2 separate regions of the Homo sapiens genome follow, and region 1 is linked to region 2. Evidence: fine-mapped expression QTL. Tissue or cell type: sun-exposed skin. Region 2 holds a variant in brackets; the other region holds the start of a gene. All regions are shown on one strand. Distances are between the middles of the regions.

Region 1 (8,103 bases), 24 kb after region 2:
GCAAAGCTCGTAACACAGCCCACATGTCATACTAGCGCAAATAAAAGAAGATGTCCTTTTCTCTGTGGCTCCTCGTGCAGCCTGCTCCCTTGCCCCATTCCTCACCCCAGGCCTGGAAAGTCAGCTGGCACCTCTGAGGCCCCTCATCTGCTGTCTATTCTTTACCTCCTTTTGCTTTCCCTTCCTTTTCTGCCACATCGGTGGCTTCCCTCAACCCACACTCCCTTCCTGGGTGACTTCCAGCACTTCTCCCACCACTTTGTTATTGACTTCCAAGTTCCTATTGCTGTTCTGACCCAAAGTTTCCACTTGGGGGTTTTGTAGGTGTCTTGGTTGTACCACATCCAAAACTAAAGTCGATTTCTCTGCTGGAGTTCCATGGCTCAGTAGATGGGGGGGCAGGGAGGGGGGACAGTGGGGGACAGGGGTTCACATTTTACTGTTCATTTGCCTTCACTGCCTACATCGACTCAGGAAGTTCTGTCCATCTTCTAAAATGTATCTGCTACCCATCCTCTTCTCGACCTCACTGCTGCTGCCCAAACCCAGGATCCTATAACTCTGTCCCTAGCCTATTTCAAGAACCACAGAATGAATCTGGCTTGGTTCTAGTCTGGTCCTCTATAGTTTATTTTCCAAGCCGTAGTCAGAGCGATCCCAGCACACCCCCACCTGATTACACCTTTCCCTTGTGTTCAGACTCTCACTAACAATAAACTCCTCAGCAAGCCAGCTGATGGGGCCCTCCACAGCTTGGCTTCAGCAAGTGTTGCTCATGTTGTTTCCTTTGCCCGGGATGCCCCCCTCTGACCCAGGCCAACCACGTAAATGCCTACTTATTCATAAGGCCCAGCACACATAACACTTCCTCTCCAAAGCCTTTCCTGAAAGCCCTGACAACTGACTGCTCACTGACCTCTTCTATAGCGTGCATGTGTGTGCGCACACACCCATAACCCTGCACAATGCACAAATGAATTGTGTAAATTTTAGTTATTTACATGTCTGTCTCCACAATATGTTGGCACAATGTGTTGTCGTCTTCATTCCTGCATCCCCAGCACTCAACACAGATCCTGGTAATTATCAGGCATTAAATGTTAATTAAATTATCTGAATTTTACTCTTAGAATTCCACAGTGAGGCAGACTTGGAACTTATAACTACTCAATTCCAATTTCAGTTCAGTATGAAAGGCAATTTTGGACAGGGCTGGCTTGATATTAAAGAAAACACTCTAGCTTGGGACTTAGGTAACCTTAGGCTGGGTCCTCGCTCTACTGCTCACTAGCAGGGCAATCTGACTTAAGGTATGAAGACACTCGGGGCCTGGATCTCATCATCTATACAGAGGAAGGAACTCAAAATTCTATGAGGTTGTCTTAGCTCTGACATCCAAAGACTCTAAAGTACCATGTGACTGCAACTACAGGGATCTGATGTCTAGAAAGCCATGGGAACCCCTGCCACCACTGTTCTTCTGCTGGGTGTGCACATTCACCCTGCCTCCTTTGCTGGGCCTAACTCCTGACTGTTCCAGGAGCTGCCTCTGGGCAGGAACTGATAAAGTCTTAATGAAACAAAGTATCAGCACTGGCTGAGTTAAATCATGTCTGAAACAAGTAGAGACAGCATCATATTCTAAACATCAAGGGTACACCTGCCCAGCCCAGCCCCACCCAGGGAATCGTCCCTCTTCAGAATGAGCTGGCCTGAGGCAGAGATAGGGGAGAAGCAAGAAAAGGTGCTGAGGGAGACAAAAAACTAAGAGTGCACATGGGCCTCCTTGCCTCAGGCCCTCAGTGAACAAGTCTTGAAAGGATGCTTCATCTTCCTTCTCTGGTCTCCTCTGTTTCCCTCTCCTTCCCTCAAAGCGCTGGTTCAGCTCATTTTACTGAGCAAATGAAGAAACTAAAGCTCAGAGAAGGAGCTGGCTAGTCCAAGGTCACATGGGCAGGGCAGGTTGTCAGTGGCTGCACTGGGACTCAGGTTTGGGTCTCCCAACTTCCAGTCCATGACTGTTTATCCTGCATCAGACACGCTAGGTCCTGGGCAGCCAGCCAAGGGCCAGTGGCCTCTAAGGCTGGAATAGCATGGCAGTCTGGGCTCAGGAAGTGGGGCCCTGCAGGTCTTGAAGCCTGTTCACTGGCCTCAGGCAAGCTAAGAGCAAGACTGCCCGTAAACAGGGCCTGGGAAATCTGCTGCCTGGAGAGAACATCATCAGCCTCTCCCAAGCCCAATCCTTGGTAAGCAGCTTATAATCTGAAGCCAAATGTCTTAAGGGTCTCATTGCCTAGTCTCCGCTGAGAAGCCATTCTGCACCTCTCTTCCCCACAATAACAAGACTCTGTCCATCCTTGTCTAGCATACTGATGATGCAGGCACACAGAGCCTTATGAGCAACAGATGCCCTTCCACCCACCCTTGTCTTCATATACCACAAAATCAGTCACTTGCAATGAGCTCTCACCTACCTGCCTCAGTCTCCAACTCTCAGCCCTGCTCCTTGGGGTGTGTATCTGCCTGGTTCTGGCCCAGTCCTACTCTCAAATGCCAGATTCAGAAACCTCTGAATAGATGCTGAAAGCAGCACCAGCCCCCACATTCCTCACTCTTGGGCGTATCTCAGGGTTTCCCAGTAGCTGATTATGTCCTCTTGTTTCCTCAAGCTGTAGGGCCCCCCACCCCTCAAAGAGCAAGCCATTCTAATCTCACTTGCACAGCCTCCTGTCTGGGCTCAGAACTCCGGCTTCATCAAGTTATATGGGTGTGGATAGGAAGGCAAGGCAATACCACAGAAGACACTGGGCTAAAAGCCAATAATCCTGGGTTTTCTCTCTTTGACTCTGAGAGTTATTTTATCCCTCTGAACCTCAGTGTCTTCTTAAAAACAAGGGCACTTTAAAGAGTTGTCATAAAGATTATATAAGAAGAGCAATTTTTAATGCGGTAACGCACTAGAAAACGGCAAAGCAGCATTATCTTTCTCTCTTTTGCAGGGCTCAGATTCACTCGTGCCCCTATAAAGACAGGATATCTGAAGCAGGACAGGCACAAAATAGTGAACTTCTGCAGCTGTGTCACTGCAGGCCTGCTTTCTGGTGAACGTTCTAGGTCTGGTGGGAACACTGGCTTGTCTCAGCCCCTCTGGCCTGCAGGCCCGCTCCATGCTATTCCTGTAGCAGCTAACACTGCCTCCTGCACTAGCAGTGCCAGAGAAGGCAAAGGACACTGCCCAGCTGTAATTTCCCTGTGCCAGAGGCCACTGAGCTCAAAGGTGAGGCTGGCTCTCTGCACAGAACCTCAGGATGGTTCTTGCCACACAAGCCACAGCAGAGAGACTTGGAGCTTCTGCTCAACATTTCACAAAGAAGCAAGAACCCAACTGGCAGGACAGCTGCCCTATTGCTTAGATAGGGACAGAGCCTGGGGCTTGAGCCCTAGAGTTCCAGTCCTATCCAAACTTTCTGAGCACCATTTAAATGACACGAGATGAGAAAATCATCAGAAATGTCTTTTGTACCCCTTCAGAAGTAATGCAGAAGGTCTCAACTAAATGACATGCTCTTATAAAAGACGGGGATATAGGAAAGGCCCACACCAAGAATAATATCTAACTTTAATTCTTGCAAGCTGTATAAACCTGGACAAGGAACTGTTTTGCATCAGTAAAATGGGAATGCTTCCTTAATTACCTTCTACAGAGTTGCAAGAATCAAAGGATTAAATGTATAGGAGGTGCCTTGTGAGGTACCTTACAAAAAGTGCAATAAATACGATGTATAATTCTTCATTTCTAGAGCAATGATTACCCTCAAAACGTTATTTGTACACAAAATGAAGAGTTTTCTGATGAATGAGTATGGTAACGAGTCGGGGTCTGCAGTGGAAATCCCAATCCTCATTCTCCAAAGCTGGGCCCGAGCAGGAGCATTCAAGACTATTCAAGCTGACTTTTTCACAATGCTTTTCAAAACAAATCTTGATTATTTTCTTTTTGAAAAACCACCTGCCAGGTTCAAAGGAAAATACATTAAAATAAAACAAACAAAAAAGCTGAGTTCTGGGTTGCTGGGCTGTGCAGACAGCATGATGTGGCAAGGAAAAGAGGCGCAGGAGCAGCTGGGAACCCCGGTCCGGCAGTGGACTCCCGGGTGTGCCTCCTTCCCACAGCCCTGGACCGGCTGGGCCTTGACTTCCCTTCCTTTGCCTCTAACCATCTCCACCTGCGCCTTCACCTCCCGCTCCAGCAACAACCCTGGGGGCAGATTGTTCATCTTTTCATTCCTAGACCTCAGCAGGGCTGTTAAGTTTACAACTGGGCTCTACCCAATTTAAAGTCAGGCGTTTGTGACTCTTGGGAAAGAGGGGGAACAGGTGCCTCCGAAACGCTGAACAACGCTAGAAACCGTGCCCTCTTAAAAGACACGACCCTAAGCGGGCACAGAGACGAGGACGAGGACTGCCAGGTCCGCACCTGGGGCTGGTCCAGCAGGGCGGCCCCCGGGCCCATGCTCCAGGGCAGGGCCCTCTCCTCTGTTCTTTGTCCCAACAATTCGCGAAGGTTGGCGCCACCGGCGTCACTCAAGGCTTGCGGGCGTGGACAGAGGGGGCCCTAGCCCGCCGCAGCAGCGCCGGGTCCCCGTCTCCGTTCTCCGACGTCTGGGCGCAGGGTTTTTCCATCGGCCGCCACGCAGGGTGGCGGAAGGGTCGTCGTCCTCGGAGGGAGCGCCAGCGCTGCGGCGGCTCCTAAGAAAGTTGGCGCGGGCCCGAGGGGCGCGCCTCACCAGCCCAGCACCCACCCTACCGGCCCTGCACTGCCTCAGTTTCCCCACCTACGCCGCGGCAGGCCCCGCCTACGGACATCACGTGCCTCGCGGAGCCCCGGCGCGCAGCACCTACCTCAAGTGCCTCCCTTCTGCCGGCCTTTTACCGCCCCGACGCCCGGGCGCTAAGGGGCCAAACCGCCCGGCCCGGAGGGTCCCAGGGGCGGGCCCCGCGCTTGCGCAGCCTCTAGCCTGTGCTGCATCGCGCGCTACCGCGCCACCGCCATGTGACCCGCCCCGCCCCCCGTGGGAGGAGCTCCGGGCCTGCCCCCGACTCGCCGACCTCCGGGCCGCGGTCTCCTAGCTCCGGTGGCGCTCGGGCGTGTGCCCCAGCGGTCCTTTTACGCACAGCGCTCGGTCGGTCCACTCCTCAAGTCCGCGAACCGAGGCCCCGACGCGTTCTTCAGGGCGCTGCCTAGGGCAAAAGAAGGCGCTGGACACCCCTAATGGAGCCTGGAAGCACCTGTCCTGCAGCCGAGGCTGGCCAACTTCCTTCCAATCTTCAGCCTGGTTTTGAATAGCTCTTTTGATAGGTTTTTTTTTTTTTTTTAACCTCCATGGGCAGGGGGAATCTAAAGGACCGACACATTCGATGAGCCCCTTCAAGCTGTATGTACAGATTCAGAATTTCCAACCTCAATCCTCCACCCACGTTCCCTTTCACTCCACAATGCCAGCTATGGGGCAGAGAACGGTGAGCCGCAGCCTTGCGGACTCCGGGCGACGCTGAGGCGGGTGTGTCACACACCGCTCATCCACTTACTCCTCCTGTTGGAAGTGCCCACTCTTTCATGAAAGTAGGAGGTTGTGTCCGGCGCGCTGGCTCACGCCTGTAATCTCAGGGCTTTGGGAGGATCGCTTGAGCCCAGGAGTTCAAGACCAGTCTGGGCACCATAGTAAGACTCCATCTCTACGTAAAAAACAAAAACTAGCCAGGCATAGTGGCGCGTGCCTGTATTTCCAGCTACTCTGGAGCTGAGGTGGGAGGATCGCTTGAACCCGGGAGGCGGAGGTTGCAGTGAGCCCAGATCGCGCCACTGCACTCCAGCCTGTCTTTAAAAAACAAAAAAAAGACCCTGTCTTAACAACAAAAAACAAAAAGTAGGAGGTTGGACTTTCAGAGACAGCAGAGCTGACTCACGATACATATTAGTGGTTGGCCGGGCTCGGTGTCTCATGCCTGTAATCCCAACACTTTGGGAAGCCAAGGCGGGCAGATCACTTGAGGGCAGGAGTTCGAGACCAGCCTGACCAACATGGCAAAACCTCGTCTCTACTAAAAATACAAAAATTAGCCGGGTGTGGTGGCGCGCACCCGTAGTCCCAGCTACTCAAGAGGCTGAGGCAGGAGAATAGCTTGAACCCCGGAGGTGGAGGTTGCAGTGAGCCGAGATGGTGCCACTACACTCCAGCCTGGGTGACAGAGTGAGATTCCGTCTCAAAAAAAAAAAAAAAAGACATATCGGTGACACAGTGCAAAGACCAGTCACAGGGCAGCATAAGGTGAAGTGGCAAAGCAGGCCGATGTCCGCCCGTCAAAGGTGGTCATTTGCCTGCAACACCTTCCCCCCTTCATCTGGGAGCTGCCCACAGGTGTACAAAGTCCAAAGGCTTCCGTGATTCACCTCCCTGACTTCCCACTCAGACTCCATGTTCCATGTAAACTTACAGCAACACTTGGGGAGCTTGATCTATTCAAGGGGGTCTCTCCTCAACCAAACTGTGAATTCCTCCACTTCACCTCTGGGACCCTAGAGCCTGGCCCAGGGACAGCGTGGAAATAAACTTAGAAAACGTGAGAGGTGGATCTAAGTTGTGGGGTAAGGGAGATCAGCCTGAGTGCCCATGCAGTTTTCCTGCAGGAGTTAGGCATATGATTTGAAGGCCAGAAAATATTTCGTATACTTTGGTGCAATGCGGGTGTAGTTTTATATATATATATATATATATATATATATATATGATATATAAGATATATATAAGATATATATGAGATATATAAGATATATATGATATATGTATAAGATATGTATGATACATATATCTCTCTCCAGAGGACCTTTCTTTCTTCTCCCTTGTTTCTCCTTACCTTGTGAAGAGGAGCGGGAGAAGGGTCAATCTTTCCATCCCAAAATAGGAAGTTCAAAGGTGAGGAGGGTTTGCAGGGAAGGCCACTTAGAACAAAACAGGAAGTCATTTCCTTGGGAAATGAGTTCTTGGAGACTGACCATTAATGACAGAGCCATTCAGGGGTTGAGGATAGCAGAATTCTGGGGTGGAAGGTCCCCTGAGGCTTTAACTGTGATGTAATTACTAATCACGTGCAAAAGTCATGCTTATATTTACACTTCGGTAACATCCTGAAGATCTGGACTTCAAAAACCAGGCTACATCTGATAGCTAATTAATATGCTCCTCACATGCCCACGTTTCTTTTTGTACAAGAAAGCACAGGCTGAACTCATTAAAAAACAGTCATTAGACCAGAAAAATAAGTTACAGGCAAGCAGGCGCAGGAAAACTTATTTACAAAGCTCAAGGACTAAAACCAAAAACCAAACCAAAACAAAAAACCTGAAGAATAAACCAAGAAAACCCACCAACCTGCCCAGCTTTTAAGAGAAAAATAATTTAAATTTTGTAAAGATTGTAAAATAGCCTTAGGTTCTGAATTTCAGGTGGTAGAAATTAAGGTTGACTAGAAGCTTTGTGATAACTTTAGATAATGTTACCATCTTGACAGGGGCTGGGAAACTTTTCTGTCCCTCACAAGTCCCATAGGGCAGGCAGAAAACACTGCTTGCAGGAGGCAGATCTGGGTAAAGACTCCTGACTTTTTCAGCGTCATAGCACTTCTAGATTCAGCTGGCTTCAGCTTCGTCTGCTACTCAGCAGTGACTGAAGTAACATGATCTTTTTAAGCTTATGGCCCTGTGGTGTCTGGGCTCGCTGGGAACAGTCAGGAAGCAGCTAGCATCAAGATGAAAATAGAGCAAAAACTGATACTTCACTTCAATATGTCAGGCCCAGGTTACCATTCTGTGGATGGGTAAAAGCGAAATCAAGAACAAGACTTGTATGTGAATCTCAAAAATAGATGTGCATAGATCAGCTTCAAATATTTTCTCTATATGCCAATATCCCTGAATTCAGCTCTTTCTTATTTGTTTTAAGCATAAAAAATCCTATACTTCCACAGTGTGTCTCAAAGCAAAGCAAAGTCAATAGGGACCTCTTTCTAAAACCTTCCATAAATGTGGCCAATGGTTTACCAGGT
Region 2 (8,103 bases):
TCCTTGAAAGGACCTCCCCACACCTCCCTAATCCAGGGATCTAACCCACTATCATCCTCAATTGTTACTGTCTTCAAAACAAAATGACAAATCCTCCTTTAAATGTAGAAAGGATTTGAAGGGTTAAATGAGAACAAATCAACTTTCTTTCCCTTCCCCTCCCAAACATAAACTGACAAATACACACCTTCTTGCTTGCCCCATGGGGCACTGGCAACCCAGAATGGAGGGAGGGCAGCTAGTGCTGGGAAGAAACTGCAGTCTGCCCTGACTGCATCCACCCTCTATCCTCACAGCCCCTACAGCCTCTTCCCCACAGCTCACCTTCCCTGCCCTCCACTCCCCTACACTGCAATGGTATGCTTTGCTCTGGGAAAGAGAGGAAGCAGACACAGGCATTGCTTTTGAGAAATCTGCATACTGGGAGAGAGGACATAGAACCAGGTAAACAAAACAGACTAGACTCCTCCGTTTTCCCCTAGCCATGCTTCGCTATCCAAATCTCTGCCTTGGAAGTTCCTCCAGCTGGGGGTTCCCCATGCACCCCTGTCCACACCATCTGTGACCCTTGCCACTGCTAGGGCCAAGGAAAAACTCGCCCTTCACCCGCTGCAGACTTGCTGAAAAAATCACTGACAAGAGGCAAATTAACAGGAGAAAAAGCAAACAAATTTATTTGATCATAATTGTATGTGAGCCCTCAGAATGAAGACCCCAAGATACAGGGGAATTGTCCATTTTTATGTTTAGGTTCAACAGATTATGGACTGTGTAGAAATATGATTGGACAAGAAGGGTATGATCTAATAGTAATAGACTGAGAGGGGAAACCCAGCAAGGCTGTCTAGATTCTTCTTGGCCTCTCTGTGCAGGATTCCTTCCTTCTGGGCACGGGGTGGGACCCTCTCTGGAATGGGTATCTTACGACAGTCAAACACGGTAGGTCAGATCATTTCTTTCCAACCAGTTTTTACACAGAAAGGGGAATGGGGAGTGAGAGGACTATTTTTAGGTTTTATGGCTGGCTTTGGGTAAAACCGGTTCTGGTTTCTGATGACCTGCCTTGGGGAAGAGGGATTCTAGTTTCTATGGGTAGCCTTGGGGGAGAATGAAAAGCCAGAAACAAGAGGGCAGGAGAAGGTCAGAGAGAAACTTTTGCTTCTGGGGCTGCTTCTGAGGCCTTCCTTTTAAAGTTATCAGAGATGATCAGGGGCATCCTGGCTCCAGGTAAGGTCTCCTGACGTGAGTGTGCTGGTCTTCCACACTGGATGCCGAGCCTTTTAAAGGGTGGTTTTCAACCTTGGCTGCATATTGGAATCACTCCAGGAGCTTTAAGAAATATTGTTGGCCTGGTGCTGTGGCTCATGTCTGTAATCCCTGAGCTTTGGAAGGCTGAGGCAGGATGACTGCTTGAGCCCAGGAGTTCGAGACCAGCCTGTGCAAGATAGTATAAGAGCTTGCCTCTACAAAAAATTTAAAAATTTGTTGGGTGTGGTAGTCCACGCCTGTAGTCCCAGCTACTAGGGAGGCTGAGGTGGGAGGATATCACTTGAGCCCAGAAGTTAAGGCAGCAGTGAGCCATGATTGCATTACTGCACTCTAGCCTAGGTGACAAGCAAGATTCTATCTAAAAAAAAAAAAAAAAAAGTTGCTTGGGGCCTACCCCAGAGATTCTGATTTAATAATTTTTACACTGCACCCCGCCCCCAACCCCCGCACCAGGTGATTCTACTGTGTATCCGAGATTGAGAACCACCAGCTTTACAGCAAGGACATTTTCTTACGTTCTTTGAATTTTCTTGCATTTCTTTGCATGTGGATTCTCAGTTTATCAAATAAATAAAAAGGAAACCTGCAAATGCTTGTCAAAGGCTGCTGAAACTTCAAGTCCAAAGCCCACAGAGATTAATGACTTTAATCTGTATAGTCCTTTAGAACCATGCTTCTCAAAGTGTGACCCATGGACCAGCAGAACATCAAGATCACCTGGAACCTGTTAGAAATGCAGAGGCTGGCCACGTGTGGTGGCTTACACCTGTAATCTAAACACTTTGGGAGGCCAGGAGTTTGAGACCAGCCTGGGCAATACAGGGAGACCCCCATCCCTACAAAAATAAAATCTGTTGGGTACGGTGGCATCCACCTGTAAGCCCAGTAACTTGGTAGGCTGAGCCAGAACAGCTTGCAGCCAGTTTGCAGCTGCAGTGAGCCATGACTGGGGCCACTAATTACACTCTAGCCTAGGTGACAGAGCAAGACCCTGTACATAAAGAAAAAAAAAAAGCAGAAACTCAGGCCCACCCAGACTGCCCACTGGAATCTTGAGAGCTGCAAATCATTGATTTTCAGCACAAACAATTTTGCTCACCCCGGACACGGAGAGACTTGAACAAACACTAGCATAGTTTCTAGCAGCTCAAGGCCCTGTCTCAGGGATAACCCAGGCCCCTTTGGGTCCCTGCCTGGGGAAGCTCAAGGCTGCCAAAAGAATTTACCATTTGTTTCAGCCAATGCCTGATCATAGGTTTCTAATCTCCCTCGTTTTTCTTGAGATGGAGTCACACTCTGTCACCCAGGCTGAAGTGCAGTGGCGTGATCCCGGCTCACTGCACCCTCCGCCTCCTGGGTTCAAGCGATTCTCCTGCCTCAGCCACCCGAGTAGCTGGGATTACAGGTGCGCGCCACCACAACAGGCTAACTTTTGTATTTTTAGTAGAGACAGGGTTTCACCATGTTGGCCAGGCTGCTCTTGAACTCCTGACCTCAGGTGATGCACCCACCTTGGCCACCCAAAGTGCTGGGATTATAGGCATGAGCCATGGCACCCAGTCCCTCCCTCTTCTTAGAGGACATACTTTATAAAATTTACAATTGTAAATCCTTTCTGTCCCTTTGGGGGATATATGTATCTTCTGCTGCACAGGAATGTGTTTCTCACTTTTTCTGGGAGCCATCCCTTTGTCATATAATTATCAGGAATGATAAGGCCGACTCCTGGTCTCTGTGGGAGGCTAGGATCCTAACTTTGATAAATAAATTTGAGAGTTAGTAGACACAGATAGCCGAATCACATTGACCAATCTCCTTACCAGCTTTTTGTAATTTTGCACTTCCCTAGTTCTATTTGAACCTCCTCCCTCCCCTCTTTAAAATTCCATCACCTCTGCACAGATTGGAGCTAAGCTCAGTTCTATACTGAGGACTCTCTCCTTCTGCAGTAGTTATTGAGTAAAATCTGTCATTATTGCCTTTAGCGTCCAGCTTTTTAAGTCTCCATTTTAATAAGGTCCTTATGTGATGTGCATGTACATTACAGTCTGAGAAGCAGTGTCATAATATTTATCATTCCCTCAGTGACTTATCATAAACAGCCCTGAATGGGAAGGAATCACGCCCATTTTGCCAATGAGTTAGATCTTTGCTTAAGATCACACTGGTAAACTAGAAATTGATTATGCCTCATGACTCAATCCAGTGCTCTTTCCAAAATGACATGCTAATCAGAAAGAGAAGACCACACTGCACGTGAGGACCCAGGGGAAAAAAGTTGGTGAGAGCTCACAAAAAACCAAACATGTTTCTCTTGATGCATCTCCATTGGTGCAA[T/C]GTCCTCTCAGGTTTTTTTTTTTGATATGGAGTTTCGCTCTTGTTGCCCAAGCTGGAGTGCAGTGGCACGATCTCGGCTCACTGCAACCTCTGCCTCCTGGGTTCAAGCGATTCTCCTGCCTCAGCCTCCCAAGTAGCTGGGATTACAGGCATGTACCACCCCGTCTGTCTAATATTTTGTATTTTTAGTAGAGATGGGGTTTCACCATGCTGGCCAGGCTGGTCTCGAACTCCTGACCTCAAGTGATCCTTCTACCTCGACTTCCCAAAGTGCTAGGATTACAGGCGTGAGCCACCACACCTGACCTCAGGTTCTTCTTTAGTTGCAAGAGAACTGTTTCACCATCAAGTGTCTTAGGTATTAAAGTTCTAAGTTTAGGTACTGAGTTATCCTATCAGTAGCTGGAGTCCCAAGGATGACAGGTACCAACCCTGTGCAAGTACCAAAGGCTATGGCCTCAAATGCTGCAGAAGCCCAGCCCTTTAAGGGCCCATGCATACCCCATGCAACCACTGCTACATGAAGTCAGGTGCAGGCATGGTCTTAGTGGGTCTTAGTCCCGAACCACTCAACCCTAACTCACTCTGCATACTCAATCCCGATGCTCTCCTACTTTCCCAGCTTTACCTCCAACATCAGTATCCATTCTTGCTTTCCTGGGTAAACACTGATTCCTTTCTCCTCCTGGCTGGGCCAGTCCCCTGGGTAAACACTATTTCCTATTTCCACCCCCACCTTTCTACTCCTGGGCCAGTTTGATGCCTTGAGTAGACTCCCTGTGGCCGAGCTCCCTGGTAGGTCTTGATGATGTCACTCAAACTTACACGACAAAATTCAAACAAAAAAGATAAAGTTATATTTCATCATCTCTATGTCCTTTCTTCTGATTTGCCAAATTAGGCTAAAAGACCAATAGAAAAACAGCTACCAATTTTAAACACCAAAGTCATTCCTCTAGGAAAGACAGCAAAATTACTAACGTGAATGACAGGATGAATTTTTCCTGGTCATTTTCAAACCACTTAGATAGCTAGAACCAGAGGAATCCCCCGAGGCACTTTACCCCTCAGCCATGGAGAATGCTGACTTTTTTTACTTTCAGCCAATTATATGGTAAATATAATTATTAGTTTTATCAGAAAATCTTATACATACAGGTGATTTCTGATGCATAATTTTATTAAAGCCAGAGATGGACATTTTTTCTAGAGAAACAGATCTCTGAGGTTAGAATGGAAGATAATGAAACAAGAGATTTCACTTTATAATTTACCTTTGTCAAACTATCCCAGAGCATGTCAATTCTATTATGAAAGTATTACTTTGACATCATATAACCAATTATTAATAGAAAACACACATGCCAAAAAACCTTAAATTTTGTAATCTTCAAGTCAATCATCAACTTTTCTTGAATTTTTGAAGACCCGAAAAGAAAAATAATTTCAAACAACAGCACTCAAACATCATATGCATTTGTAATGAGGCACAGCAATCAATTTTTTTTTTTTTTTTTTTTTAGTTAGAGTCTCAGTCACCCAGGCTGGAATACAGTGGTGTGATCTCAGCTCACCGCAACCTCCACCTCCCAGGTTCAAGTGATTCTCCTGCCTCAGCCTCCCGGGTAGCTGGGACTACAGGTGCCTGCCACCACACCCGGGTGATTTTTGTATTTTTAGTAGAGACGGGGTTTCGCCATGTTGCTCAGGCTGGTCTCGAACTCCCGACCTCAAGTGACTTGCTCACCTTGGCCTCCCAAAGTGCTGGGATTACAGGTGTGAGCCACTGCACCCAGCCTGGCAGTCAATTTTAAGCCTCCTATTTCCCAGGTTTTAGCTTAATAATCCTCATTAGTTTTTCAGATTTTTGTCAGTCTTGTTTTGGGGCTATTTTGCCTTAGTGGGCCTAAACAGAATATTAAAATACATTAATAATCCATACTGAGAGTAGAGTATAAATGGGTTTCTCACTCCTTAGGGACACGAGTGGAAACAATACATCCCATGAACACAGGTGAATGTCCCTGGTTATCCCTGAGCTGGGCAGTTTCACACAATCATTTTTTCTCTGAGGCCAAAGTCTGTGGTTTGATCATCTTAGCAGCTTCCAGAACAGAAAGTAGGTTTACTTTGTCTCCAAATTCTTTTTCTCGGTGCTCAAGAAGAATGCCCTAAAAGGAAACAAGAGATAATGTCAGTCCTCATCCTAAATCGTTCGTTCATGAGACAGGCATCGAGGACCAGCTGTCTGTCAAGCCTTTTGCTTGAATAGCAAAGGACACAGATCCAAATATGGCCTGGCTCCTGCCCTCAAGGAGTTCAGTCTTTGAGGGAAGATAGACCGGAGAAGGCCACATCCATCTGGCCTGTACCAGCAGCTCTAGAAGCAGGAAGTCAGAAGTGATAAAGCATGACAAGGGCAATCAGGGAAGGCCTCACAGAGGCACGGAGGGTAACCAGGATGTCTACAAGTAGAGATGCAGGTAAAAGAACATACCAGGTGAAGAGAAAAAAATGAAGCTAACACAGAAAGGCCCAAAGGTGTGGAAGTGGAGCTCAGAGGTTAGACTTTGGAAGGCACTGAATGACCATCTAAAAGAGAGACCCTCATTTTTCTTTAGTCTTCTAAGAAACTGGAAGCCACTTTCTTCTCATACAGTGAAAAAAAATGCACTAAGACACAAGATACCCCAAAGTTATCTAAAGTTGGAGGTAGTAAAAAAAAGACAAAATAACATGTTTGAGATCAGCATCAAGGAATCCTTGTTAGAGTTCTTTGATTCATTACATCTGGAAACTCATCTTAAAAAGAAAATCTGTAAATACACTGTGTCATTATTTATAAAGACTTAAAAAAAAAAAAAAGGCCCACCACACTGCAGAGATTATGGGCAAGCAGATCAGAAAATTATATTTACTTGCTCAGTAAACCATAATACAGACATTAAAAATACTAATAGGCTGCGTGCTGTGGCTCACACCTGTACTCCCAGCACTTTAGGAGGCTGAGGTGGGCGGATCACTTGAGGTCAGGAGTTCAAGACCAGCCTGGCCAACACGGTGAAACTCGGTCTCTACTAAAAATACAAAAATTAGCCAGGTACGGTAGCTCAAGCCTTTAGTCCCAGCTATTCAGGAGGCTGAAACAGGATAATCCCTTGAACCTGGGAGGCTGGGAGGCGGAGGTTGCAGTGAGCCGAGATCGCGCCACTGCACTCCAGCCTGGGCGACAGAGCAAGACTCCATCTAAACAAACAAACAAACAAAAACACGAACAAAAAACTAACAATATATAGTGACATAGGAAAATGTTCACAATATACTGTTAAATGAAAAAAGAACATCTAGTACAATTTTCTAGAGCAAAGCAAAACAAAAGGAAAGGCCATTCAGCTTTGTTCCAGTGGATTTTCCACGGTGGCTGAGCTCATAGGATGGTTTTCCCCACCTTCTATGTTCTGCTGTTTTTAAATTTTCTGTAGTGCAAACACACTTTTTATTTATTTATTTACAGACAGGGTCTTGCTCTGTTTCCCAGGCTGTAGTTCAGTGGTGCGATCATAGCTTACTGCAGCCTTGAACTCCTGTGCTCAAGAAATCCTCCTGCTTCAGCCTCCCAAGTAGCCAGGACTACAGGTGCATGTCACCACGCCGGCTAAACTTTTTTATTCTTTATAGAGATGGGGTTTTGCTATGTTGCCCAGCTGCTTCTTCTTTAAGAATGCTTTCAAGATTATTATTAAAAAGAAAATTCAGGCAGGGTGCGGCGGCTCACGCCTGTAATCCCAGCACTTTGGGAGACCAATGTGGATAGATCACTTGAGGTCAGGAGTTTGAGACCAGTCTGGCCAACATGGTGACACCCTGCCTCTACTAAAAATACAAAAATTAGCTGGGCATGGCAGCGGGTACCTGTAATCCCAGCTACTCGGGAGGCTGAGGCAGGAGAATCGCTTGAACCCGGGGGGGTGGAGGTTGCAGTGAGCTGAGATCGTGCCATTGCACTCCAGCCTGGGCAACAAGAGTGAACCTCTGTCTCCAGAAAAAAAAAAAAAAAAAAAAAAAAAGGAAATCCCCACCACCCCAATTTTAGACTACAAAAACTCTACACCCAACAAGAACTGAAGTAAGTCCTGAAGTTCAGCTAGCCAGTTAACCTTCCGCCTAGGAGAATGAAGGCCAGGGGCTCCAGGGAATACGAACAAAAGTCAAACACACCTAGCAACATCAGAAACATGCCAGTAGGGCCCATGAGCACCAGATGAGTCATCGCCAGGCAAGAAAAGGCTGGCAGGCATGCCAAGCCCTGCCCTAGAGGCCATGAGAAGGCAGAGGCGGGTAGGGGAAGGAACCCCACGTTGTCAGAGTGGGAAGAGGATGGGCAATCCACTGGGGAAGTGGCCTGCCCAAGCATAAGGACATCAGGAAGTGGTCGCTGGGAAACACCTCCAAGGAGAGGCTAGGGGCAGGGCAGGGCAGGAGAGGCTAGGGGCAGGG

Evidence for each region. PIP is the estimated chance that this variant, and not a neighbour inherited with it, causes the effect.
Region 1: it holds the start of PRXL2A, and the variant in region 2 is fine-mapped to the expression of PRXL2A in sun-exposed skin (GTEx, PIP 0.98).

The regions. Positions count from the first base shown.
Region 1 is chr10:80,405,443-80,413,545 of GRCh38, reverse strand. It overlaps PRXL2A (peroxiredoxin like 2A), which reads right to left and starts at 4,995. Exons shown (of 6, transcript NM_032333.5): 1 at 4,903-4,995. RefSeq lists enhancers at 2,702-3,201, 4,048-4,641 and a silencer at 4,927-5,216.
Region 2 is chr10:80,429,660-80,437,762 of GRCh38, reverse strand. It overlaps PRXL2A (peroxiredoxin like 2A), which reads right to left. Exons shown (of 6, transcript NM_032333.5): 6 at 648-5,777. The coding sequence ends at 5,664. Among named protein-coding and RNA genes, the nearest start is that of TSPAN14, 21 kb to the left of the region's middle. The variant T/C (reference allele first, on the strand shown) is at 3,607.